Linked DNA regions of Homo sapiens. The protein of the gene in region 2 purifies or fractionates together with the protein of the main gene of each other region. This does not show direct contact. Each region holds a gene or a part of one and is shown on either strand. Other genes may lie near its edges. The genes, in order: PDHX, MICALL2, NDRG2, PON1, splicing factor U2AF 35 kDa subunit-like protein, NAA30 and NUBPL.

Region 1 (3,500 bases), on a different chromosome or scaffold from region 2:
CAGTACACACTTCCCTCTGATCGTCACTTGGCTGGCTTTTTTTCATCATTGGTTTCTCAGTTCAGTTGCTAATTTCTTAGGCCTTCTGCAGCTTCTGTAGCTGAAATAGTTTCCTAACACTCTTTATCTCATTACCCTGTTTTATTGTCTTCATATGGTTTATTAGTCTTTGAAATTACCTTGTTTATTTATTTGTTCACCCTTCTGTGTTCCCTACTGTCTGATGTTCACTGTCCATTGCCATTTATCTAATTCTAGAAGAGTGCTTGGGATACAGTAGTTGCTTGGTGAATTTATTTTAAAACAAATTTCAGTAAAACTTGTTTCATTGAAATTAATTTTTCAAGAGTTTGTGGCTCTCTGCAGATTCATCCATGAACCCCAAGTTAAGAATATCTGTACTACGCATTTACTTCTTGACCCTCTGTAATCCCAAGGATGCCACTGTGGGGGCTGTAGGCATACCCCAGCCAAGTTCAAGTTGGTATTCCTTGAATAAAGTAATGTAGTGACACACCTTGGATCCTGTGTTATTCTTAATTCTTCATTACTTATAACAGTATTAAAAGGCAGAGGCATAGTTTACCTTATAAGTACCCAGTAAATTTTTTTAATGAATAGCAAGGCATTCGATGTATTGTAGAAATATTTAGTGGTCATTTTTTATTCTTTCAGCTGGATGCTTCAGGTAACATGTACTTTGATTTTGAGTCCACATTGCCAGGAGATCCCAGTGATGATTACAAATTTATAAAACCAACGATCCTTCTCAGATTCCATACCTATTTCAGACTTACTAGAGTTCACTGACAGGAATTTCCTGTTGATGTATTTAGGATCTACAGAGTTTTTGTTTTTAGTATGTGTGCGTGCAATCTACTTATTAAAGTGAGTTTTTTTCATTTGTGGTAATTGTGTGGTAGTTCATCAGGATATGTTGAGATCATCTGCCTTTAAAAAATGCCTTTTAAAGTTCATATATGTGTCTTTTCAAATCATGTGAACAATTACATTGCTTAAGGGAGGAAAAATGCTTTTATAGATTATTCTCTCTCCCGTTATTCCAAGAACTGTATAAGTCAAAATTCATCTCATTTTTTACCTTGAATCCAAATAGTTTTATAAATAACCACATCCAAATAGCATACACCTGTAATTGTTTCTGTTGGCAGTACGTTACAGTAATGTGTTTTTAGATTTTTGATATTTTTAAAGACTTTCAATTTTAAAAAATTAAATCATCTATGAATTAAAGTTAGTTATCAACTGTGATTGTAATAGTGCCTATGTTGCCTATGTAATACAAAATATTAAGTAAATTCCACATTTATTTTATCTACCCAAATGACAGTGACCTCATTTTTCTGTACCCTTCCTCTTAAGTTAATTCGTTATTAATTTTTTATATATGATGACTCAACCTCTGTTCCCTTGCTTTTAAGCACTGAAAAATAAAAATTAACAGAAATGTGGTTAATTCCAAGTACAAGTGAGAGGAAAATTTAACTAATATGTCATCTGTCTTGTCTTCTGTAAGATTTTTAGAAATCGCTGTGGTCAAGAGTGATATGAATCAAGTACATCCTTATATTCCTTGTGGCAGTGTAAATTGGACTAGCTCATTCAGGAAATGATTTAGCTATAGGATCAAGAACCAAAAGAAGTCTATTCTCTAGGGCACTATAATTCCACTTCTGAAAATTTACCTGAAATAATTCAGAAGAAACCGTGAACCAAATTATAACACTGGGAAATAACCAAGTAAATTAGGCAGGTGCAGTCTTTAGGAACAAACATTAAAAAATCATTTCTGAAGGCTGACAACACAGAAGATACATATAATATTGAACAATTAAATATAAAATTTATTTTTTATAACCATTGTGTGGGGTTGAGATTGTGGATAAAGATGAAGCAAACTCTGAAAGATAAAAACGGAATGTTGGTTGTGGGATTGTGGGTATACTACTTTGGTTGCCATTGGATAATTTATTTAAAACACACAGATTGGCCAGGCATGGTGGCTCATACCTGTAATCCCACCACTTTGGGAGGCCGAGGTGGGTGGATCACTTGAGTTCAGGAGTTGGAGACCAGCCTGACCAACATGGTGAAACCCCATCTCTACTAAAAATATAAAAAATTAGCTGGGCGTGGCGGTGGGTGCCTGAAATCTCAGCTACTCAGGACGCTGAGGCAAGAGAATTGCTTGAACCTGGGAGATGGAGGTTGCAATAGGCCATAATCACACCACTGCACTCCAGCCAGGGCAACAGAGTGAGACTTCTCAAAAAAAAAAAAAAAAAAAAAACTAAAAAACACTAGATTGACCAGAATGGATTCTTGTATTTTTTTTCTTACCATAAAGTTTTATAGGCAAAATAGAAAATTTCATTTTGCATATAGGAAACTCTAAAGCATTTTGCATAATAATTGATGGTACACAGGGTAATTCCCACATTTGAAAAATTGTTAAAGGAAGTGATTTTTCTAGAGTTTTGATTAACAGCTTTAGTTTCTTGAATTATCTGTGCTCTTGTTTGTTCTTATAATTAGAGAAAATTATTTTTATATAGGTAACAAAATCAAATCAAGGCATATCAGAGATGAGAGTATATGATGTACAAATATTTCAAGTGACAAGATCAACTGTATAACATTTTGTTGGTTGTCCTATTCTGTTTGTATTTTTCTCAGGCTCTATCAAAGAAAGCAAGAGATGGAAAATTGTTGCCTGAAGAATACCAAGGAGGATCTTTTAGGTAAAATTTAAACTCTTAATTATCCATAGCATCAAACAGATAGATGTAAGACTTATAAAGTCCCTGTCAGCCTTTCATTTATCTGAAATATTTTTTAAAATTTAAGCTAAAAATACTTTATTTAGACAATAGAATATCTGAAAAAATTCTTCAGACTAGTCAGGCTTTCATATTAAAGCTAGTAGGAACCTATTAGTGTTGAACTAAACGTTCGTTGGACATTGACTAACATGGAATGATAAATATTATGTATTCTTTAGTATCTGACCCACCCCCAATATTAATGTCTGTAATATTATATTGCTATGTGAAACAACCACTTATTTATTATTGCAGCATATAATATTCTATTGTATAAATATACCAGAATTCATTTTACTGTTGGTGGGCATTTGCGTTGCTTCCAGTTCGGGGCTATTACAAATTATGGTGCTATGAACATTCTTATTAGTGTCTTATAGTGAATGTATGTACATTTTTTGTTGTATAGACCTAAAAGTAGAATTCCTAAGTTAGAAGCTTTAGCAGCTACTACCAAACAATTTTCCAAATGGTTATACAAATTTACACCTCCACCAACGGTCCTGAGAATTCCCATTGCTCCACATTCTTGCCACTATTTAATAATGTTAGGTTTTAAATTTTAACAATTCTTGGGGTGTGTAGTGGTACTCTTTGTAGGAAAATGCAAATTAGTGATGTTGAGTACTTTTCACTCATCAGCCGTTTGGGTATCTG
Region 2 (3,500 bases):
TTCTGTGCCTCAGCCCTTCCCACTGGTGTTGTACTCAGTGGCCATCCCCAGCCCCTTGCTGCCACCCTGCACCCCGGGTGGGGGCTCCTAGGAAACAAGCGCTGTTCCCCCTACTTCTGTCCCCAGCTCTGCAAGGCTGGGGTGGGCCGGTCCTCCCAGTTCCATCCCCCACGCTGTGAGGCCAGGGTGGGTCAGCCCCGAGGTGGGGCCTGGGGTGGCCTGTGGGTGTGTGTCTGCTGACCTGCACAAGCACCCTCTGGGGTTTGCACCCCAAACGAGGTTTTTGGTGGGGTTTGTGATGTAAGTGGTTAAGGACCCTGAGAAGAGGCGTTTGTTGAATGAATCAGCGACCTCGTGAGTGGAACACAGGAGTCCGCAATGCCTGCTCTCAGGAGCACGTGGTGAATGCGTGGCGGGGCGGGCGTTCAGCAACCTCGCAAGTGGACACAGGAGTCCGCAATGCCTGCTATCAGGAGCACGTGGTGAATGCGTGGCGGGGTGGGCGGTGCCGAGCTGGGGCTCCTGTGCCTTTCCTCCCCCAGGTGTAAGCAGTGCTCCTGCACGCTGCACTCGGGGGCCTACAAGGCCACAGGAGAGCCGGGCACCTTCGTCTGCACCAGCCACCTCCCCGCAGCCGCCTCTGCAAGCCCCAAGTTGACGGGTCTGGTCCCCCGACAGCCAGGGGCCATGGGTGTGGATTCCAGGACCTCCTGTTCCCCACAGAAGGCCCAGGAGGCAAACAAGGCCAGACCGTCGGCCTGGGAGCCTGCTGCGGGCAACTCGCCTGCCAGGGCTTCCGTTCCAGCTGCACCCAACCCTGCAGCCACCAGCGCCACGTCCGTCCACGTGAGGAGCCCAGCCAGGCCCTCTGAGAGCCGCCTGGCCCCCACTCCCACGGAGGGGAAAGTCCGCCCTCGTGTGACCAATAGCTCCCCGATGGGCTGGTCGTCAGCTGCCCCGTGCACAGCAGCGGCTGCCTCCCATCCCGCCGTGCCCCCGAGTGCCCCAGACCCTCGCCCGGCCACACCCCAGGGTGGGGGAGCCCCCCGAGTGGCAGCTCCTCAAACCACACTCAGTTCAAGCTCCACATCTGCAGCCACGGTGGACCCCCCAGCCTGGACCCCGTCCGCCTCCAGGACCCAGCAGGCCCGGAATAAGTTTTTCCAAACATCAGCAGTGCCCCCCGGCACCAGCCTTTCTGGCAGAGGTCCCACCCCGTCACTTGTTCTATCCAAGGACAGCAGCAAGGAGCAGGCGCGGAACTTCCTCAAGCAGGCCCTCTCAGCGCTGGAAGAGGCTGGCGCTCCGGCGCCTGGCAGGTGAGCGCGTGGGGACCGAGGGACCCCGGGTATGGCCTCTTTGCACCAGCCAGCGGGGCCCCGGAGGCCAGAGGGGTTGGGGGCGCTGCACCTCCCTGGCTGTGTGGCCTTGGGGACTGCACTTCCCCCAGCCTGTTTCCTTCTCTGGGGAATGGGGAGGAGGAGCCAGGGTGGCAGTGCCTGTGGTCAGGGTGGTGGAAGCCGGGTCCTTATGGAAAAGCTGCTGTCCGCATGTGCTCGGGGCGTCATGGGTGCGGTGGCGCTGCCGCTCCGGGGCCCCCTGTGCTGCACTCCCTTGGAACCCAAGGGTCCTACGCCCATTTCATGGACGCGGGGACAGGTCGCGAGCGGGACCCACGCTGGCGGGTCTGAGTGGACGCGGGGACAGGCCGCGAGCGGGACCCACGCTGGCGGGTCTGAGTGGACGCGGGGACAGGTCGCGAGCGGGACCCACGCTGGCGGGTCTGAGTGGACGCGGGGACAGGTCGCGAGCGGGACCCACGCTGGCGGGTCTGAGTGGACGCGGGGACAGGTCGCGAGCGGGACCCACGCTGGCGGGTCTGAGTGGACGCGGGGACAGGTCGCGAGCGGGACCCACGCTGGCGGGTCTGAGTGGACGCGGGGACAGGTCGCGAGCGGGACCCACGCTGGCTGGGCTGAGCATCACCTTGTCTGACTGAGTCCAGCCAGGCCCTGACCTTCCATGCCTGGGCCCGGCGCCTGCCTGTGCCTGGACCCTGAGCAGATGACGTGGACGGGTAGAGGGGGGCGCTGCATCAGTTTCCAAAGACCCCCTCACTGGGCGGCTTACACAGTAGAAATCCACCCCCTCACAGCTCTGCAGGCCAGAAGTCTGACCTTGAGGCGGGGGAAGGGCCGCGTCCCCTTGCAGGGCACTAGGGGTGGACCTGTCCTTGTCTCTTCCAGCTCCCAGCGGCTCTGAGCGTTCTTGGCTTGTGGTCGCCTCCCTCCAGTCTCTGCCTCCGTTTCCATGTGGCCTTCTCTCTGTCTGTCTTCTCCTCTTCTGTCTCTTCTAAGGACATGGTTGTTGGACTAGGGTCCACCCTAACCCAGCGTGAGTGCATCTTAACATGATCATAACTGCCAAGATGGTTTACAGATAAGGTCACACTCTGAGCTTCCCAGTGGACATGACTTTTAGGGGTCACCATTCGACCAAGTACAGTCACTTAGCGAGTAAGAATGCTTGTCGCAGCCTGGCTGACAACGCCGTTTCCTGCCCCGTATCGTGGGGTGCAGGCGTCCCCTGCTCAGAACTGCCTCCTGCCCCCGCAGTGGTCAGCAGGGGGTGCTCAGAGCCTCCGGGGTGGTCACAGACAGGAGAAGAGCGAGTTCGCTCTGCTCCTCCTGGCACTGGGGGGTGTCCAGGGCATCCTAGGGACTGAGGATGAGTGGCGGGGGTGCTCCAGGGAGTGCTTCCTAGGTGGTGGGGCGGGGGGCATGTGTGGCTGGGGAGGACCCCAGCTCCTCTGGGGAAGCTGGCCTGGCACACCTGAGCCCAGTGTAAAGGGAAAGGGGGGAGGGAAACTGGTTGTCGAGGGGGGTGGGGACATGGAGGCACTGGCTCGGGGGTGGGGAGGCACCTGGTGCCCCCACCTCAGGCTCTGGCAGCCTCACTCCTGGTGTGTGCCTGAGGGAAGGCAGGAAGGCACGGAGGCCTTGTGTCTGGCCCTGTGTCTGTGTGTCTGGCGGGGCCAGAGAGACTGTGTCACATGGGACTGAACCTGGCAGCCCAGGCCGGCCCAGCCTCTGACAAAGCCCCAGGTGCCTCCAGCCTGGGTGGGTGGTGTGTTTAGGGGGTGGATATTTTAATCTCAGCCAACACTGGATTTCACAGGGGAGGAGAATCAACCACAGCATATGCTCATGCCAGAAACAGGTGTCTGTGGCCTGTGCCTTGCCAGGGTGGTCATTGGGAGCGAGCTGCAGGGAGGCAGAGGGGCAGCCTGGTGCAATGGTGGGGGAGGCGGAGGGGTGGCCTGGCGCAATGGTGGGGGAGGTGGAGGGTGGCCTGGGGTGATGGTGGGAGTCCGTCCGGAGGCTGGGCATTGGGAGTGAGCTGCAGGGAGGCAGAGGGGCGGCCTCGGGTGATGGTGGGAGGGCGCCTGGATCCAGCTGTGCCTGATGCCTGCGCTTTTACTTATAGGCCCTCCCCAGCCA
Region 3 (2,895 bases), on a different chromosome or scaffold from region 2:
GTAAGAGTTAGGTCGTTACTGCTTCACCAGACTGTGAGGAACAGGACAGGTGCGGGAAAGGTTCGACTGGGGAGGAGGAAAGGGAGGGCAGTGGTTATTCTGGGAGAGAATGAGTAGGACATCCTGAGGTGGGGGGTGTGAGGGCAGGTTGGTATCTTCCTTAACATGCCTCTCTTTTCCAGATATCAGTACCCATCTCTGGACCAGCTTGCAGACATGATCCCTTGCGTCCTGCAGTACCTAAAGTGAGAGGCCTGGGAACCCCTCCAAACCAGAGTTCTCTTTCCAGCACAAGGAGACCCTTAGAACTTCCAGGTTCACCGTGGTTCCTGAGCCAGTTTCAGCTTCTGAACTCAATATATCTTCTTCCTTCATGCTCCCGCCTTGATTATTGAGAAAAGGTGGTGGGTTTGGAAAATTGGCCAGAGTCAACAGAATAGCCCTAATGGGTGGAGGGAAGGAAAAGGGTCTATGCTTGGCCCTGCCTCAGGCTAAGGAGGGCCTTCTCTGATCAGAAAGTCAGGGAGGAATGAAAGGGGGTGACATAATCCCTGAGGAACCAGATAGACCTGTCTCTTTCTCTCCCACTCCCCTCTCCTTCATGCCCACACCTGGTGGATGGGGAGCTCTGCGGGTGAGAGAGAGTTGGGGAAGGAAGAGAACACCAGACCAAGTGTCTTTGGTATTCAGAGGGAGGTGCTGGCCCCTGGGTGCTGTTCTTAGCTAAGCTTCTCCTAGGCACCAGGGCTCAGCAGCTCTGGTTCACCACTTTGCCACTCTTTTCCTCATTCTCTCCATTGTTCACTAAAATTGTGTCTGTTTTCACATTTGCTTTAAGTTCCATTCTTCCCGTTCCTCTAGAGGAACCAGGAACTAAAGCAGAACAAGTTGAACTGGCTCTTGAAAATTGAGAATGGACAAAGAGCTATCTATATGGGAAAACAGTGTGTTGGTTGGCTGGTGGATGGGTGTTTGTTTTTAAGACACTAGCTCTCCAGCAGAAAGCTGGGGATAGACTTCAGGTATCTACCCTGACTACCCGTGCCAACCTTTGGCTTCTTGGGCCCTTCTTTTTCGCGTCCTCCAAAGAAAGGTCCGTGTCTGCCTTTCTTTGTGCCCGTGGACTCAGGAGGGAGGGTGAAGAGTTTGAAGAGATGGGCTGTGGCAGGTTTTGGACAGCAGATCCCATGAGGCGTATATTTCTTTCCCTTTCACAGTTTCTCTACAATAATTGGAGTTGGTGTTGGAGCTGGAGCCTACATCCTGGCGAGATATGCTGTAAGAAATAAAAAGCCCAGAGGAGGGAAAGGAGGGTCCAGACTGATTAGGAGAATACTGTTTATTAGTGCTGTTTGGGGGAGGAAGTGGGCACTAGGTGGGGAGTCAGGCCCTGTGGGAGTCCAGGAGTGGGTCGAGCTTAGCGGGGAGGGGATAAGGCCATGCCCTGTTTCTCATTTCCTTCCTTCTGCTGTCCCTCAGCTTAACCACCCGGACACTGTTGAAGGTCTTGTCCTCATCAACATTGATCCCAATGCCAAGGGTTGGATGGATTGGGCAGCCCACAAGGTTTGGAGGGGCCTGTGTGCTGAGACCTACGGTTGGGGATCCCCTCGTATGGATCCAGTTAGGCTCTGGTAGATAGCCTAACTGGATGGACTCTGAACTTCAAGGAGGGAGTAAAGGGGCAGGAAAGTGAAGCTGTCACTTTGCCTGAGTCTCTTATAATATCCTGAACTTTCTTTTTCTTTTTCTTTTTTTTTTTTTTTTTGAGATGGTGTCTCACTCTGTTGCCAAGGCTGGAGTGCAGTGGCTTGATCTTGGCTCACTGCAACCTCTGCTTCCTGGGTTCAAGTGATTCTCCTGCCTCAGCCTCCCAAGTAGCTGGGATTACAGGCACCCGCCACCACGCCTGGCTAATATTTGTATTATTAGTAGAGATGGGGTTTCACCATCTTGGCCAGGGTGGTCTTGAACTCCTGACCTCGTGATCCACCCGCCTCGGCCTCCCAAAGTGCTGGGATTACAGACGTGAGCCACTGTGCCTGGCCAATACCCTGAACTTTCTCACCTGCCTTCTCCTCATAGCTAACAGGCCTCACCTCTTCCATTCCGGAGATGATCCTTGGACATCTTTTCAGCCAGGTAAGTGGGTGTAGGAGATGTAGAAGAGTCGACGGGAGCAGCAGGGAACTTGAATGCTTGGGCTAACTTCCTTAGCTGGGACAGGATTTGGGGAAGGAAGAAGGCTTACCTCTTTTCCTCCAGTAATTGTTGTTTTCTCTTTCCATCCCTAATTTTTCTCCTTGTTCTCTCCTTCAGGAAGAGCTCTCTGGAAATTCTGAGTTGATACAAAAGTACAGAAATATCATTACACATGCACCCAACCTGGATAACATTGAATTGTACTGGAACAGCTACAACAAGTGGGTGGGCTGTGTGTGTATGCATGTGAGAGAAATGCAGAAGCAGTAATTGGGCGTCATGGGGGAGGCACAGAGGAGGAGAGGGAAGTCTGGGTAGTGTGCAATGTGCAAGGAATGCAGCATTTAGTGTGCAATGGGGGCAGCTTCAGGACAGAGTCAGTGGGAAGGATTGCAAGGGGCTGTCCCCCTTCTCTTGTTTACCTCCTTTGGATTATTGGACTCCCAGAAGTAAGATGATCTTGTGTCCTGTGTCCTTCCTCCCCTTTTGTTGCCCTCTGACCAGGGATCTAGGGCACAAGTGACTATAGGGGCTGTGCTTGGGGCCTGCCTGCCCCTTTCTCCTTTGGTTTCCACCTTTAATAACCAAGATTTGACCGTAATTTTTAGACAAAGATAGTTCCATCATGGGAGAGATAGCTTATATCTGGTTAGATAGCATTGCCCACCTAAAATTCCTACTCTTTTAACCCCT
Region 4 (3,500 bases), about 94 Mb from region 2:
CATTAAGTATATTCACAATGTTGTGCAACCATCATCACCATCCCTCTCCAGAACTTTTAATCAGCCCCAAATAGAAATCCTGTACCCATTAAACAATAGCTCCCTATTCTTCTCTCCCCCAAGTTCCTAGCAATCACCATTCTATTCTATTTTCTGTCTCCATGAATTTGCCTGTTCTAGGTACTTCCTATTAGTAAATCGTACAATATTTATCCTTTTGTTGCTGGCTTATGTCATTTAGCATCATGTTTTTCAAGGCTTATCCATGTTGTAGCAGGTATCAGAACTTCATTCCTTTTTTTTTTTTTTTTTTTTTTTAGATGGCGTTTTGCTCTTGTTGCCCAGACTGGAGTACAATGGTGTGATCTCAGCTCACTGCAACCTCCGCCTCCCAGGTTCAAGTGATTCTCCTGCCTCAGTCTCCCAGGTAGCTGGGATTATAGGCATGTGCCACCATGTCTGGCTAATTTTTTGTACCTTTAGTAGAGACGGGGTTTCACCATATTGGCCAGGCTGGTCTTGAACTCTTGACCTCGTGATCCACCCACCTCAGCCTCCCACAGTGCTGGGATTACAGGTGTGAGCCACCGCACCCGGCCAAGAACTTCATTCCTTTTTAAGGCTGAACAATATCCAATTGGACATAAACCCATCCACACCTCATCACAAATTTAAGAATAGCCTCAGCTAGTTTATCAAATTACTTGGCACTCTCGGGCATTAATTAACTGATATTAATTAATACGGTCTTTCAAAAGAAAGAATAATGTGACAATTGATGGAGAACCTTTTTGGGGTTTTCATGATGGGAGACAGGCCTGGTCTGTTGCTGAAACTGGCCTTGCCCTCAGTCTCACCCTGGTGAGAGCAGAGCCTTGACATTCTGTGGTGAATGTCTGTTACATTGGGTTCTATTCTCATAAAATTCTTTAACTTTTGTTTTACAGAAATACCTGTTGTTAAAACCGCAGCTTGTTTTTTATTCCCTTAGCCAGTATGAGCGTGTGAAATTCCATTTTACTTGAGCTAATACCAAACTAGCCCTGCCAGTGATTTTTAATGTCAAACACGATGTTACATTTGATGTTGCTTTAAGGTAATTTTCTCTGAGTGAGGCCCCTCATGACAGTCTCTCAGATGTGCTGACAGGAACAGTCATACAATTGGCGCTGACAGTGCTTCCTGCAGTGGGCGTTTATGGCAGGAAAGCAACGTCTTGCTGTTTTTCGGAGGTAGAGGGCTGCTTTCTTAGGGCTCTAGTTTGCTCTTGGTCTCTTTTTCCTCTCCTTTGTGTTTTCACCCATTTTGACTCCAACCTTCAGATGACCAGAATTGGTGGGGGCAGCAGGTGAATCCCTGAAGCATGCCCAGCCCCACCGCAGTAATTTAACAAGTATTTGTTAAGTGCCAACTAGTCAATGTGAATTGTACCAGAAGCAAATAGAAAAACAGCCTGTCCTTGTGGAGCTTACACCCTAGTTGGGGAATCAGGTAATAAAGGGTATGAATAAAATATATAGTATGTTAGCAATACGTGCTGAATGGAAAAATAAAGCAGGAAAGGCGAGGGAAAATACGTAGCGGGAGGGAGCAGTTCCAGGTTTTGAAGATCGAGGTGACGTTTTAGTAAAAATGAAAGGAGATGAAGGAGGGGGTCATGGAGATCTGGAGGAAGGTTTCTCCTCCTAGCAGAGGGAATGGTGCCCCGTTCTGAGACAGTGGCAGGAGACGTGGGGCAGGGACACAATGGTTGGAGGTAAAGGCAGAGAGGTGAGGGGCAGCCAGGTCACCTAGCAGCCATCGTGAGCACGTGGACTTCATAAACATTGTGGAGAGCAGCCCTGCATAAAGTACAATTTGAGGCTATTTCTTGGCTGTTCCATCAACATAGAGGAAAAAAGAGAAAGAAAAGGGAGGAGAGGGAAGGAAGGTGGAGGAGAGGGAGATCAGAAGAAAGGCAGGAAGGGAGGGATGGAAGGAGGATCTGGGAACACAATGCCAAGCTTAAAATTTGCTAGAGCAGAAAGAATGCAAGGTTCACGGGTAAGAGGTGGGGTTTGCTGTTTGCCACTCTGCAGTTGAGTAAAAATGAACAACAAACACATAACCAAGCTAATGACTCTTAATAAAGGAGTGAAAAATTGGTTCTCACCCACCCCAATTAAGCAGTCCTTTTTTCTTCACATTTAATTTCACAAATCAATTAGAATCTAATTATCACTCTGCAGACTTACAGTGTTAATACGTCTTACCTTCAATGGAGTTAAAGTCCAATTAGCATGCTTTTCATACACATGAATCTTATGAGCCAGCAACTCAGCTATATAGACATACCTTCAAAGAAGAAAGAGCTACATCAAAGTACTAGAAGTAACACAACTTGAGAGATTAAGATGAAGTTGTAATACCTATTCATAGGGAAGAACTTTGCTTAAGGAATGGAAAATGGAACCCACCTCAAACACACCAAATTCTGAAAGAACTCAGTGAGTTTACAGTGACAGAGGGGTTTAATCTCTGAAAAGTTGTTTCTGAAGGAGGGGACATAGTTGTCCTTATCAGTATGGGAGGAACTTAGCCCTAACACTAACTTTTAGTATCTGGGAGTAAAATGCATTACAGCGTTTCTCTTTTGGTTTGACAATTTAGTGTCAAGGCCCAGGTTCTGCATTTCAGGGGCTAGTGAGTTCTCTCTCGGGAAAGTTGCAGGAAAGCCCTTGGACAACAGCCCCTTGTTTTAATCCAGAGAAAATATGAGAGAAGAAAAGCTGCTTGGCTTGGATCAAGAGAAGTCTTCCTCCTCTTCTGCCCTGAGTGTGGTCCTGACCCTGTGGCTTTAGTCATACCCCACAAAGATCTGGGGTTAGTCTAAGCACTGTGCATCCCCCCAACAAAAAAAAGAAATTACTGCTCAATTATCTTCTATTTTTTGAAAACTGGTCTATGATATGAATAATTAAAAGCTGTCCCTGTCCCTGTTGCTCTCACTTGCTTGCTTGCTTGCTTTTTCTTTTCTTTCTTTCTTTCTTTTTTTTTTTTTTAAAAAAAAACAGAGTCTTGCTCTGTCACCCACGCTGGAGTGCAGTGGTGCAATCTCAGCTCACTGCAACCTCCACCTCCCAGGTTCAAGCAATTCTCCTGCCTGGCCTCCCTGGTAGCTGGGATTACAGGAGTGCGCCACCACGCCTGGCTAATTTTTGTATTTTTAGTAGAGATGGGGTTTCGCCATGATGGCCAGGCTGGTCTATGACCTCAGGTGATCCACCCACCTTGGCCTCCCGAAGTGCTAGGATTACAGGCATGAACCACCACACCTGGCCCCTGTTGCTTTCTCTAAGCATATGTTACGGACTCTAAAATCCTTGATGATGACACAAGATGAGAAAGGGCATATATGTGGATGGATATAGATATTTCATGTATATACCAATGCTACCCAAAATGCAGTCTCCAGACCAATGTTGGTTTGCAAATTGTTTGTTATAGCTCACCATGAGATA
Region 5 (3,500 bases), on a different chromosome or scaffold from region 2:
CTGGCACACGGGTCTTTGAGCTTGCTCAAAACTCTTTTTATCTTTTTTTTTTTTTTTTTTTGAGACAGCGTCTCACTGTCTCCAGGCTGGAGTGCAATGGCGTGATCTTGGCTAATTTTTGTAGTTTTAGTAGAGACGGGGTTCCACCATGTTGGCCAGGATGGTCTCAATCTCTCGACCTCGTGATCCACTTGCCTCGGCTTTCCAAAGTGCTGGGATTACAGGTGTGAGCCACCGTGCCCGGCCCCCTTTTTATCTTTGAAGATAAAAAATAACTTCTTATTTTCTAATTCTGAGAATGATTTAAGTTCACTTTCTAACCTATCCGGGGCTGTTTTAATTATTTTTGAACTTCCAGGAATCTGCTTTCGAACCCAAATTTTATTAAGTGTAACTACTCGGACAGCCTGCCAATCATATCACAGGATATCCCAATTGGAAAGCTATTGGGAATGTACCTTCCTCCCCGAGTAGAAATCAAGTTATAAACGGCCAAAGTAGCCTATTCCAAAGGGCAGATTTTAATATTTCAAATTCACTTCCTTCCCACATAAGAAGAATGTGAAGAGGAGAAAATTATTCACATGCTCAAAGTTTTAGCAGGTTTGAGAAATGGTTTTGGGGTGATTATTTTAAATTATTGGCTATATTTGTTCTGCTTAAAATGTTTCAATCAAAGTGACTTGAAAGGCAGAGACAACTGCATTAAGATACAATTAAAAACTTATTTGTGACTCAGCCTATGTTAAATACTACAACTTGGAAAATAAAGCAGTTTTCTTACAGAAATATCATTCTTAAACTGGGATTGATAGTTAACTTTAACCCACGCATTTGAAGCTTATTTTTTTACATACTAAAGGGTATGTTGAAAAGAGCCAGTAATTTTAGGTAATTGATTTCTTCCTAAAATGACGAATTAGAATTTCATCTAATTTGTACAATCTGGACTCCAGAATTGGAATATAACGTAATTGCTAAACTTTTAGTTTGTAGCATATGGAAAACAAAAGTGCTGTGAACTGCAAATAAAGACACAATGAAAACTAATACAACATTCTATTGTCAGTCAAGAAAGCATATACAGTCCCCAAATAAACGATCAGGGCAAAGAATTAATTACTGTTACTCAGTCATGTACTTCCATTCACTTTTATCCCAGGGCAGGGTTGTTAACAAAAATTATTTAATAAGTGCATATAGAAACAATTTCCCTCCGCCTATTGATCTTATTTCCTTAAAAAACAAAAGAAAACAAACAAACAAAAAAACAGGTATTTTAAACCAAGGGTTACCAAGTAAATCCTGCTACCATCCGACTCAGGGAAAGAAATCTCTACTATCAGGTCAGTATTAGCACTGAAAAGCATTTAGTGTCTTGGCAGGAAAAGTTGACAAGAAAATCTCATCCACACATAGAAATGTGCACCACTGTGCAAGGAAGCACAATCCCCAGGCCACCCAGTGCAGGGCCAGCTCGAGAGGGGAATGCCCCCTGGGATCAGCTACCCCATGTCGGTCACCCCATTAACTGAGGGGCTCTGGTTCAAGGGTGTACTCAATTTAGGCTTGTGGATATCCAAGGGCACCTCAATTTTTACTGCTTTAAAACAGAATGGTGAATGGGAAGTGCCTATCTTTGGTTTGGACTTTCTGATTTTAACAAGAGTCCAGGTGTTCATTTTAATTTATCCATAAATGACTAAATTCTAATGATTCTATAGTTGGATGGCTGTAAAAATCAAATTTTAGTTTTCTGAACTTCCCAATCATACTCATCTATGATATCTCCTTCTCTAAAAATTATCATTAGGTAAATATTCACAATCTAAATTTAGTATTTCCCAGTACAGGAAGATATTGGTACCATCTACTGAATGCCCAGTTTTGATCTATTTCTAAATGGAGCAAACCAATTCCATCTCCTAGAGCTGGAGACTGTATCCAGGCAGTGTGTGGACAGAACGGACAATCTTTTCTGCCAAGGGCCTATTTGAGTGGAGCACCCCCACACGGGTTAGACGGGTCGGCACGGGGCTGGTGGGTGAGGAACTCAGGGGTCAGTGCAAGCTGCAGACCCTCATTTGGGGAACGCTCTCAGCACAATGCTCTTACAACTACAGGGTGCACTCCAAAATGGAGTTCAAGGAAAAAAGGCTAATGAGAAATAAAATCTGAAAAAATAACTTAAAAAGTTTGCTTTTTAAAAATTCCAGAAAGTGAGAGAAACATTCAAATTTTGTTGCTCTAAGAGGGAAGAATATGACTCGACGTTTAATTCCAGTACATTCCCTCTAGGATGACGGCCAAAGTAAAGGAAGAAGGGGCAGCAGCAGCTCCAGACTGGTTTTTTTTTTTTTTTTTTTTTTTTGGAGACGGAGTCTCACTCTGTCGCCCAGGCTGGAGTGCAGCGGCACGATCTCAGTTCACTGCAACCTCCGCCTCCCGGGTTCAAGCGATTCTCTGCCTCAGCCTCCCTAGAAGCTGGGATTGCAGGCATCTGCCACCACGCCCAGCTAATTTTTGTATCTTTAGTAGAGATGGGGTTTCACCATGTTGGCCAGATTGGTCTTGAACTCCTGACCTCATGATCCACCCGCCTCGGCCTCCCAAAGTGCTGGGATTACAGGCGTGAGCCACCGCGCCCGGCCCAGCTCTAGACTGTTTTAAAGGGCACCCTTTCCAGTTACTTTTTCCCTTTTAACACACGGTGGGAGTTCAAATCTCCAAAAGAGGTTTCCATGGGGTCAGTGGGACGAAAGCTCCTTGCCACCTCTAGTGAAACGCGGTCCTTGACACTAGCACGGCAGACCAGATGGAGTGGACACTGAGCTCTGACACGCAAGCCCAGGGAACCGGGGAAGGAACTTGTATGAACTTACAGCGCAAACCGTCAGCAGACTGGGAAGAGTTTTGAGGGTTACGGTAAATGTTCAAGAGGGCAATGGTCTGAAATACAAAACGCAACAACTTTATATTATGGAAAATTAAAGGTAAACACTTAACCGGCTGCCTCTGGCAAGTGCTTCAGTTGAGATTCAGTGCTGAAAAGAGAGCAAGTTATTTTCTGGAGAAGCAGAGGCGTTTTCTCAGTTGGCGGCTGCCTTGAATCCCTAACACTGCGGTGTAACGGAGGTCTCATGATATGCCCATCTTGTACTTCTGCTTACAGAACGTGAAAACTCTCCTTTTCAAAATTCCAATTCAGGTAAAAGCACAAATAGTTTGCCAGGCTAGCACCAAAATGTTCTTAGATGTGGCAGAAAATTTTTAATGAACTCGGAAAGAATAATGCTTACATAAACTGATGGAAAAAATTACTGTATTAGAGAAATACAATTGTTACATATCATGAAATCTCCACTTCCTGGAGGAAAAATTATAATGGTGAAATAAAACCCACACTTACTGGGCAACTTACCTTATTGATTCCTTAATATTCCTAAGAGTTTTAATTTTACACAAAGAACTTAATAAAGGCCAGGGGTTCAGTCACTGTA
Region 6 (3,500 bases), on a different chromosome or scaffold from region 2:
GCTTTCCTTTAAAAAAAAAAAAAAAGCAACAAACTTTCCTGAAAAGGGGCCTTTACCAACTGTTAATGGAGGTAGGGTTTTTAAAAATACAGTAATTAGAGCCACAAAATATATTCCAAACCAAATACTAGAGCAGAAGTAGAGCATATTCAAATGAAAACAACAACAGATTCCTACAGTTTTCACAGAGAATGAATCTTTTTTCTTATGGGTACCTAGGTTTTCCAGTTAAATAAATTATCTATCACAGGTTTACTGACTCAATTGAAAGCAATTAACTGTAAAATTTGTTACATTGCACTGATTGGCCAAAACACAATGTAACTAATAAACATGGTGGCTGTTAAGAAAACCCACAGAACTCATTCCAAAAAAGATTTTCATTTCCCCCTTTTGTTTTTCTGGCAGAAGAAAAGCAAAGCTCCCCCAAGAATTTGCTCATACAAGTGAAAATAAAATAAAGCAGCTTAAAATGGATACAATGCACCTTGAAATTTATTTCCAAGACCAAGAACCTGAAGTGAAGCATTTTAAGAAATGAAAGCAATGTGAATCCAAATCAAGTGGGAAAAACAAATTCAGCTACTTTGTAAAAGCTGTTCTTCGCAGCGTAGCAGTAATTTTGATTAAATAAAATCATATCAACTTACACTAATTTTCTATTCTTTTCCAAAACTTCCCTTACTCTCAAAAGAAAAAGTGCATCTAAACCCCAGCAATTCCCGGCTCCATCAACTTTTCTTATCTCTTTTGAGCCATTTCTCAATTTTCCAAGTAGATTCAACTTGTTACTGTAAGGAAAAAGGGACTTCTAAAGTAAACCATTCTTTCATTCACCTGAAAAAAGTATCCAAATTATAAAAATCTGAAATAATTTATCAAATTTAGAATTTAAATAAAAACAAAAGTTTGCTTGCAAAGGCCTTAAAGAAAAGGAAAAGATAGCATGCATTCAAAAACTAGAGATGAAGACAAATATACTTATCTACACAGGCACTGGCAGACAAAATTTAATTGTTACCTTTACTCATTGTAAGACATACCCACCCTACATTTTTTTCATTCACTAATCACTGAGGTACCAATATTCAAGAATGGAAAATTTAATATTGAAAAAATAAAACCTAAAACTGAAGCGTCTCCCTCACCCACTTCAGAAAACTAGGGCAGGTTTTGTGTGAAATGTTAGTATACTTAAAGACTTTTACAATCCACATTGGCTTTTTTAAGGAACAAAAATTATGTTCCACTTACTGGTTCTGTGATAAAATGATCACTGTGTAAATAACATTGTCAGCAGACTTTGCAAATGAACACATAAATCTTGGCTATCAACTGGCACATCTTGTTGGTACCAAAAGAACTCCTGAAGTTTAAAACAATCTTTTAATTCAGAACAAATGTGCCATGCCAAAGTGCAACAAATATTGTGCGACACTCAATGAGACACTGACAGGTAAGAGCTGCATGGAAATTACTAAATCCACCTGCAAAGCAATTCTGTACAAATTGCATTGCATGCAAAGGTCGATTCTGTGCGGATGATAGTTGTTCCTTGATGTCAGTTTCTCAACGCAGCCACAGTTTAAGTCGCAGTGCATCAACTCCATTTAAATAGTATCTGAACAGCCTCTTATCTCGAACAAAACCAAGATTTTCATAAAGTTTCAAAGCGGACTTATTTGTTATTTCGGTTTCCAAAACAACCTTCAAAGAAATGAGAAAAAAACTAAGTTATAATTACACAATTTAAAAAATAATTTACCAACTAAACAATTTTTTAAAAAATCATACATTATTTTAAAAATTGATAGTGAAAACAATAAATAATATACAGAAAGAACTCAAAAACAGTCATCAAGATTGTAATATTATATTTGGGTCAAGGGCTTGGAGGACCACTGCAGATTTATCTTCTGTTCTACTGATTTGTGTAGTTTGAAATGTTTAGCAATGAGAGTATGTTTTATACTAAAACAAAGATTAATTATTTCCCTGTGGGGAAAGGTAAAATGACTACAGATGAAAATAAAATCAACAATCAAAAGTGCTGGTTTATTTCCTTAAAATAATAAGCTATATTATTATAAGCAGCTATTCAGATTGACTTCCAACTTCTGTATTTTCATTAATATGTCATTTATTCTGGCAATAACTACCATATTTGTCTGGAGTCTCGACCAGAGTCTGCAAACTATAGACTTTGGGCCAAATGTGCCTGCTGTTTTGTAAATAAAGTTTTAGTCAAACAGCCATGTTTATTTGTTTACATGATGTCTGTGGTGGCTTTCTCAATACAAGGGCAGAGCTGAGCAGTTGCCACAAAGACCTATGGTCCACAAAGCCTAAAATAATTACTAGTGGGCCTTTTACCAAGAAAGTTTGCTGAATCCAGACAAGAGGTATTCAAAATGTTACAGTGTATCATAATCACCTGAAGGGTCTGTTAAAATAGATTGCTGAGCCCCACCCTCAGAGTTTATGAGTACGTTTGCAGTAGGACACAAGAATCTGCATTTTTAATATTTTTAAATTGCTAGATGATGATGTTGCTGCGGTCAAGGGACCACATTTTGAGAACCACTGGTCTATATAGCAAAGCTTAACAGAGGAACACATAGTATTAACTTTCATTTAAGTCTTTTGAAATATTACTGAGCCAGTGGCCCTGACAATGAATAACTGGTATTTTTGAAAACTGCGATTTTATTTTTACCTCCCTCTAACACCCTCTACCCCATCTTCCCAACTTTTACACACGTAGCTCTATTTGCCTTTTCAATTGTTTCTCAACTTATTTCATTGAGAACTATCAACACAGTGAGCCACAGTTACTATTGGGTGTCATAACCCTCAAGTGTTTGGAGTGGGTGGGGGGGAAATGGCAAAGTATAATTAAACAAAGGCCCAAGTGAAGCATAAGTCTCTTCCTGTTCTTTCTCAAGCTATCAAAAAGTCTGACAAGAATGCAAACAACTGATGCAAATAATAAAGACAGTACCTCAACTTATATCCAAAATTGAACTCATAATCTGCTCTTCCTCCTCAATTCCATATCTCAGTAAACAGGATCACCCCCCACCACACCAATGCCTCAAACCTGAAACCCAGGAGTCATCTTTGAACCTCATTCCTCTCCAACCACCTATATGCATCCAAGCACTGATTATTGTCAATTCTCCCTCTTAAATCTCTAAGTGGTCCTCTTCTTTCTATGCTCGATATACCACAGTCCAAGCTGCCATCAACTCTCACTATAATTACAAGAGCCTCCTAACTCAAGAGGTCTCCCATTCTCTCTAGAGTTAGGGTGATGCTCTTGTTAATTCTCTACTTAAAACCGTTTACTGATTCCCTCTTGTCCTCAAGAGAAAGTCCACAATCTAAAAATAATATCAAGAGACATAAAAAGTCCATCAATATATTGGCCTCAGCTTTGCTTTAGGTCTCTCTCTTCTTGCTTTCCATGCTCAACACTGAATTTTCAGTTTCTGGAACCC
Region 7 (4,250 bases), on a different chromosome or scaffold from region 2:
GACCAGCAATAGGAATATGCTACATCCGAGAAGAGTAACACAATTCAAAGACTGATCAACAAATAGGCGCTCATAATGTGAATCACATTTCCTTACAGAACAATGGTATAAACTATGTCAGGGTTATTTTCTTAAAACTAGTTAAGAGCATAAATTTTTAAGGCAGACCTGGTTCAAATCCCAGCTCTGCCACCTTCTATTGTGTACTCTTGAGTAGGTTATTTTACCCATAAGTCTGTTTTCTCTTCTATAAAATGAAAACAATGCCTACTTCATAACTGTGATCAGGATTAAACGAAATATTGCATGTAAAATACTTAGCCTAGGGCAAAGACTTGATAAATTCGTTTTTATAAGTTACAAAATTCTGAATTTCAGGTACAAGATAGGTTACACATAATACAACTTTAAGGCAGAAACTTTCAGAGGGCAATTCATTTTAGAGTTAGGTTCTTCCTACATTTAAACAATAGAATCACTGAGCATATTTGCATTAGTCAAATGTCATCATTCTAATCTAAAACATCTCTAGCATGTATATTCAAATGGGAAGTATTTTGAAGTAGTTTGAGGCAGGAATAAATACATATAAGGAAAAGAAATATATTAATAATACCAATAGAGTTACATAAAAATAACCTATTTTTAAGACTTAGATATGCTCACAGAGCTGTTATGAAAAAGTATGGGCCAGCTTTTCGGGACAGATGGTATAATGTTAACAGAAAAAAAGTGAGAAAGGGACATTTACTGAAGCACCCATTACGTGTCACATGTTGTACACTTTCTCATACATTTTCCTGTTTAAATGCTTTCACATTTCATGGCAACAATCATCTTCCAACTAAAAATAATAAACAAACAATCTTAAACAAGTGCCAGCCTACAGACCCAACAAATTACAAAACGCAAAGAACTTATGGCTACAATCATGAAAACACCTTCCATCCTTATCCAGTTCAAGTAATCACAGAGCATGCAAAAGGATTCAAACCACTGAAAACTGAAAAATGTACTCCAAAAGGTTCTAGAACCAAAAACTAAGAGCTTCTAAATTTTAAAAACAACCAGATGGATTGTAAACCTTTAGGAAAGAAAGGAAAAATGTGCAGGAGAGCACATGAATTCATTAAGAACAGATTATTAATTTTTTTTAACAATATGGTATCTATCAAATAGTAATGGATTAGTGATCCACCACAAATACAATATTTGGTAAATCTTAACTTTTCCAAAACATCTGACAAATTCTTCCAGAATTCCCTTCTGATAAAAATGGGGAAAAATGAGCTAGTAGGCAGGGCGCGATGGCTCACACCTGTAATCCCAGCACTTTGGGAGGGCTAGGCGGGCGGATCACGAGATCAGGAGATGGAGACCATCCTGGTTAACACGGTGAAACCCCGTCTCTACTAAAAATACAAAAAAAAAATTAGCCGGGCGTGGTGGTGGGCGCCTGTAGTCCCAGCTACTTGGGAGGCTGAGGCAGGAGAATGGCGTGAACCCCGGGAGGCGGAGCTTACAGTGAGCCGAGATTGCGCCACTGCACTACAGCCTGGGTGACAGAGCGAGATTCCGTCTCAAAAAAAAAAAAAAAAACAAAAAAAAAAAGTTACTAGATGTTTTAAAAATAACAGCAACCAATTATTGAACACTAGTAAACACTAAGCTAAGTGGTTAGCTTGTGCAATTTGAATAACCATCTTATGAAAGAAGTTATCTCCATTTTACAGTTAAGTGAACTGAAGATTTGCTGTACAATCTGACCACTTTTTCCTGAGTTAAGGGGTGGGAGACCCGGCTAGTACCTACTTTTGTCTAACTCCAAAATCTAAGCGTCTACCCGCTACCAACTCCTGAAACTAAGGAATCACATGTTAGGAACTTCACAAATAAATTTTTAAAACACAAAACTATAATTTCAATAGTGTGCACTTGTCTGTTGGCATAAGTTCTTAATCAGGAATAGAATTAATATCCTATAATACCTGCTGTAGTAGATTTTCCGACTCCACCCTTTCCAGAAGCCACAACTATAACTTGTTTAACACCTTCTATCGGTTTCTGCTTTGGAAGTCCTCGGGACATGATTTGTGTTCTTCTTTGTTTTAGGGTCTCACTCCCGGCGCCAGACAACTTTAAAAAATAATAATAATAAAAAGCCGTTTTAAATAAGCCATCTCCATCATCACACTGTAAAAGCAAAAACAATCTGGGGTTTGCAATTAAGAGGGCTTTCTTTTCTAATTCTGCTCATCTTCACTATGGAGACATTTACCTACTACTACTGATAACAATTGTAAAGACACATTGCTTAAATTGAAATTTTTCTAGCAGGATACGCTGAACGTTTAAAAATGTAAAAACGCTGCCTCTTTACGGAGATAAGGCTTCCACGTGTTTTGCTTTTCTTCAATCTATTTGATAAATAACCCAAAGCCAAGAAAGCAATGTAGAATACCACATCTACGTTCTAACTGTGTTTCAAGTCCCGCCACGCCTCAGCCTGGGCCTGCCTGAAAAGTAGGCACGTCCAGCACACTGGGGGTCTCAGGAACTGAGGCGAGTCTTTGGCAAGAAGCAATGCCAGGGCATCTGCGGCCCTGCAGCCCAGCATCTGTCAGCCCGCTTCCCCCTGCCCTGCAGCACCACGGACCTGGCGCCCACAAACCATCGCTCGGCTTCCCCCAAGCGGGGCAGTGGCCCCGCCACCAGCCCGGAGCGACACCCCACCAAAAAGCAGCAGACGCTGCCAAATCCCCATGACGCGGAACGCTGCTGTGAGCCCTGCTGGGAAACTGTCGCGGGTGGCGCGGAGTGATGACGTCACGGAGCAACGCTCGGCTTTCTCTTCCTAGCAACCGGTCTTCTTTGGGTTTGTTGGCTCAGGAACCCAATCTGCATGATCTTGTTTATAGCCAGCTACAAACATTTTGCAGCGTTTTACTAAACGTTTGTGAAGTGTTGTCATATAAAACATCTCTTATGATACTTACAGAAGTCCCGAGGTAGACAGAAGACTTACCTAGTATACTCTTTTTATGGACAAGAAAACGGAGAAAGTTTAAAGAGACTTGACCCAGCTTAACAAAAGTAGGAAATGGGGGACCTTGAAAATGACCCCAGGATTTCTTACTAAGCAGTATATGGTCATTTAAATACTACCACCGTTAAGGATTTTACCTTTTTATTTTATTTTTTCCCGTGTGATCTACAGTGAGAGTCTGTTTTGCGTTGGTATTCATGGCTTGTGTTGCTGACAGTTCCCTGAAAGAAAGGTCAGGTTGCTTTACCAGCAACCTGGTAAAGAACTTTGCAAGTTCTTCCAGACTTAAGACTCATTTATTTAACAAATATTCGTTGAGCAACTACTATGTACCGAGTACTACAGTAGACTTAAAATATTCAGCATTGAGACCGACATAATTCCTCCACTAAAGGGCTTTATAATCCAGTGCAAAAGACAGAATAAGTTAACAACAAAATTGCGGTATAATATGATAAGTACAGGAGAAAAGCATTGAGGGATACAGGAGAAAGGACAAAGTGATACAAAGAAAGGGCACTCAATTCAATCAGGGGAAGCTTCTAAATTAGGTAATATCTAAGCTGAATGCTGAATCTGAATAATGTGTAGAAGTTAGCTGGGAGAATGGCAAGGAGATTGTTGTAAAGAGGTTAGAAATGGACTGCTAAGGCTAGGCATGGTGGCTCACGCGTGTAATTCCAACACTTTGGGAGGCCAAAGCAAGAGGATTGCTTGAGCCAGGAGTTCAAGGATGCAGTGAGCTATGATTGCACCACTGCACTCCAGCGTGGGCAGCAGAGTGACACCTTGTCAGAAGAAGAAGAAAGAAGGAAGGAGGAAGGAGGAAGAGGAAATTAAAAGGAGAAGAAAGAAGAAGGAAGAAGAAAGAAGAAGAGAGTAGAAGGAAGAAAGATGAAAGAAGAGAGAAAAGCCCCCGCCCGGCCAGCTGCCCCGTCCGGGAGGGACGTGGGGGGCAGCCCCCATCCGGTCAGCCGCCCCGTCCCGGAGGGAGGTGGGGGGCAGACCCCGCCCGGCCGCCACCCCGTCCGGGAGGTGGAGTCACCTCTGCCCGGCCACCCCGTCTGGGAAGTGAGGGGCCCCTCTGCCCAGCCGCCACCCTGTCTAGGAGGTGTACCCAACAGCTCATTGAGAACGGGCCATGATGACGATGGCGGTTTTGTCGAATAGAAAAGGGGGAAATGTGGGGAAAGGAAAGAGAGAT

Evidence for each region.
Region 1: the proteins of MICALL2 (region 2) and PDHX purify together in Homo sapiens (affinity purification with mass spectrometry, with the first as the bait; one large-scale study listed by BioGRID). This does not show direct contact.
Region 3: the proteins of MICALL2 (region 2) and NDRG2 purify together in Homo sapiens (co-immunoprecipitation; one large-scale study listed by IntAct). This does not show direct contact.
Region 4: the proteins of MICALL2 (region 2) and PON1 purify together in Homo sapiens (affinity purification with mass spectrometry, with the first as the bait; one large-scale study listed by BioGRID). This does not show direct contact.
Region 5: the proteins of MICALL2 (region 2) and splicing factor U2AF 35 kDa subunit-like protein purify together in Homo sapiens (affinity purification with mass spectrometry, with the first as the bait; one large-scale study listed by BioGRID). This does not show direct contact.
Region 6: the proteins of MICALL2 (region 2) and NAA30 purify together in Homo sapiens (co-immunoprecipitation; one large-scale study listed by IntAct). This does not show direct contact.
Region 7: the proteins of MICALL2 (region 2) and NUBPL purify together in Homo sapiens (affinity purification with mass spectrometry, with the first as the bait; one large-scale study listed by BioGRID). This does not show direct contact.

The regions. Positions count from the first base shown.
Region 1 is NC_000011.10:34,989,618-34,993,117, forward strand, and holds part of PDHX (pyruvate dehydrogenase protein X component, mitochondrial isoform 1 precursor), read left to right. Parts: intron 1-2,697; coding exon 2,698-2,762; intron 2,763-3,500.
Region 2 is NC_000007.14:1,442,471-1,445,970, reverse strand, and holds part of MICALL2 (MICAL-like protein 2), read left to right. Parts: intron 1-542; coding exon 543-1,319; intron 1,320-1,379; exon of another isoform or gene 1,380-2,394; intron 2,395-3,486; coding exon 3,487-3,500. UniProt on the Homo sapiens protein: Effector of small Rab GTPases which is involved in junctional complexes assembly through the regulation of cell adhesion molecules transport to the plasma membrane and actin cytoskeleton reorganization.
Region 3 is NC_000014.9:21,019,167-21,022,061, reverse strand, and holds part of NDRG2 (protein NDRG2), read left to right. Parts: intron 1-182; coding exon 183-245; intron 246-1,217; coding exon 1,218-1,278; intron 1,279-1,479; coding exon 1,480-1,566; intron 1,567-2,085; coding exon 2,086-2,142; intron 2,143-2,319; coding exon 2,320-2,423; intron 2,424-2,895. UniProt on the Homo sapiens protein: Contributes to the regulation of the Wnt signaling pathway. Down-regulates CTNNB1-mediated transcriptional activation of target genes, such as CCND1, and may thereby act as tumor suppressor. May be involved in dendritic cell and neuron differentiation.
Region 4 is NC_000007.14:95,304,033-95,307,532, forward strand, and holds part of PON1 (serum paraoxonase/arylesterase 1), read right to left. Parts: intron 2,335-3,500; coding exon 2,253-2,334; intron 1-2,252. UniProt on the Homo sapiens protein: Hydrolyzes the toxic metabolites of a variety of organophosphorus insecticides. Capable of hydrolyzing a broad spectrum of organophosphate substrates and lactones, and a number of aromatic carboxylic acid esters.
Region 5 is NC_000021.9:6,489,249-6,492,748, forward strand, and holds part of splicing factor U2AF 35 kDa subunit-like protein, read right to left. Parts: intron 3,045-3,500; coding exon of another isoform or gene 3,007-3,044; intron 2,950-3,006; coding exon 2,883-2,949; intron 1-2,882. UniProt on the Homo sapiens protein: Plays a critical role in both constitutive and enhancer-dependent splicing by mediating protein-protein interactions and protein-RNA interactions required for accurate 3'-splice site selection. Recruits U2 snRNP to the branch point.
Region 6 is NC_000014.9:57,407,586-57,411,085, reverse strand, and holds part of NAA30 (N-alpha-acetyltransferase 30), read right to left. Parts: intron 1,708-3,500; coding exon 1,570-1,707; 3' UTR 1-1,569. UniProt on the Homo sapiens protein: Catalytic subunit of the N-terminal acetyltransferase C (NatC) complex. Catalyzes acetylation of the N-terminal methionine residues of peptides beginning with Met-Leu-Ala and Met-Leu-Gly.
Region 7 is NC_000014.9:31,559,954-31,564,203, reverse strand, and holds the start of NUBPL (iron-sulfur cluster transfer protein NUBPL isoform 1 precursor), read right to left. Parts: upstream 2,801-4,250; 5' UTR 2,765-2,800; coding exon 2,657-2,764; intron 2,137-2,656; coding exon 1,989-2,136; intron 1-1,988.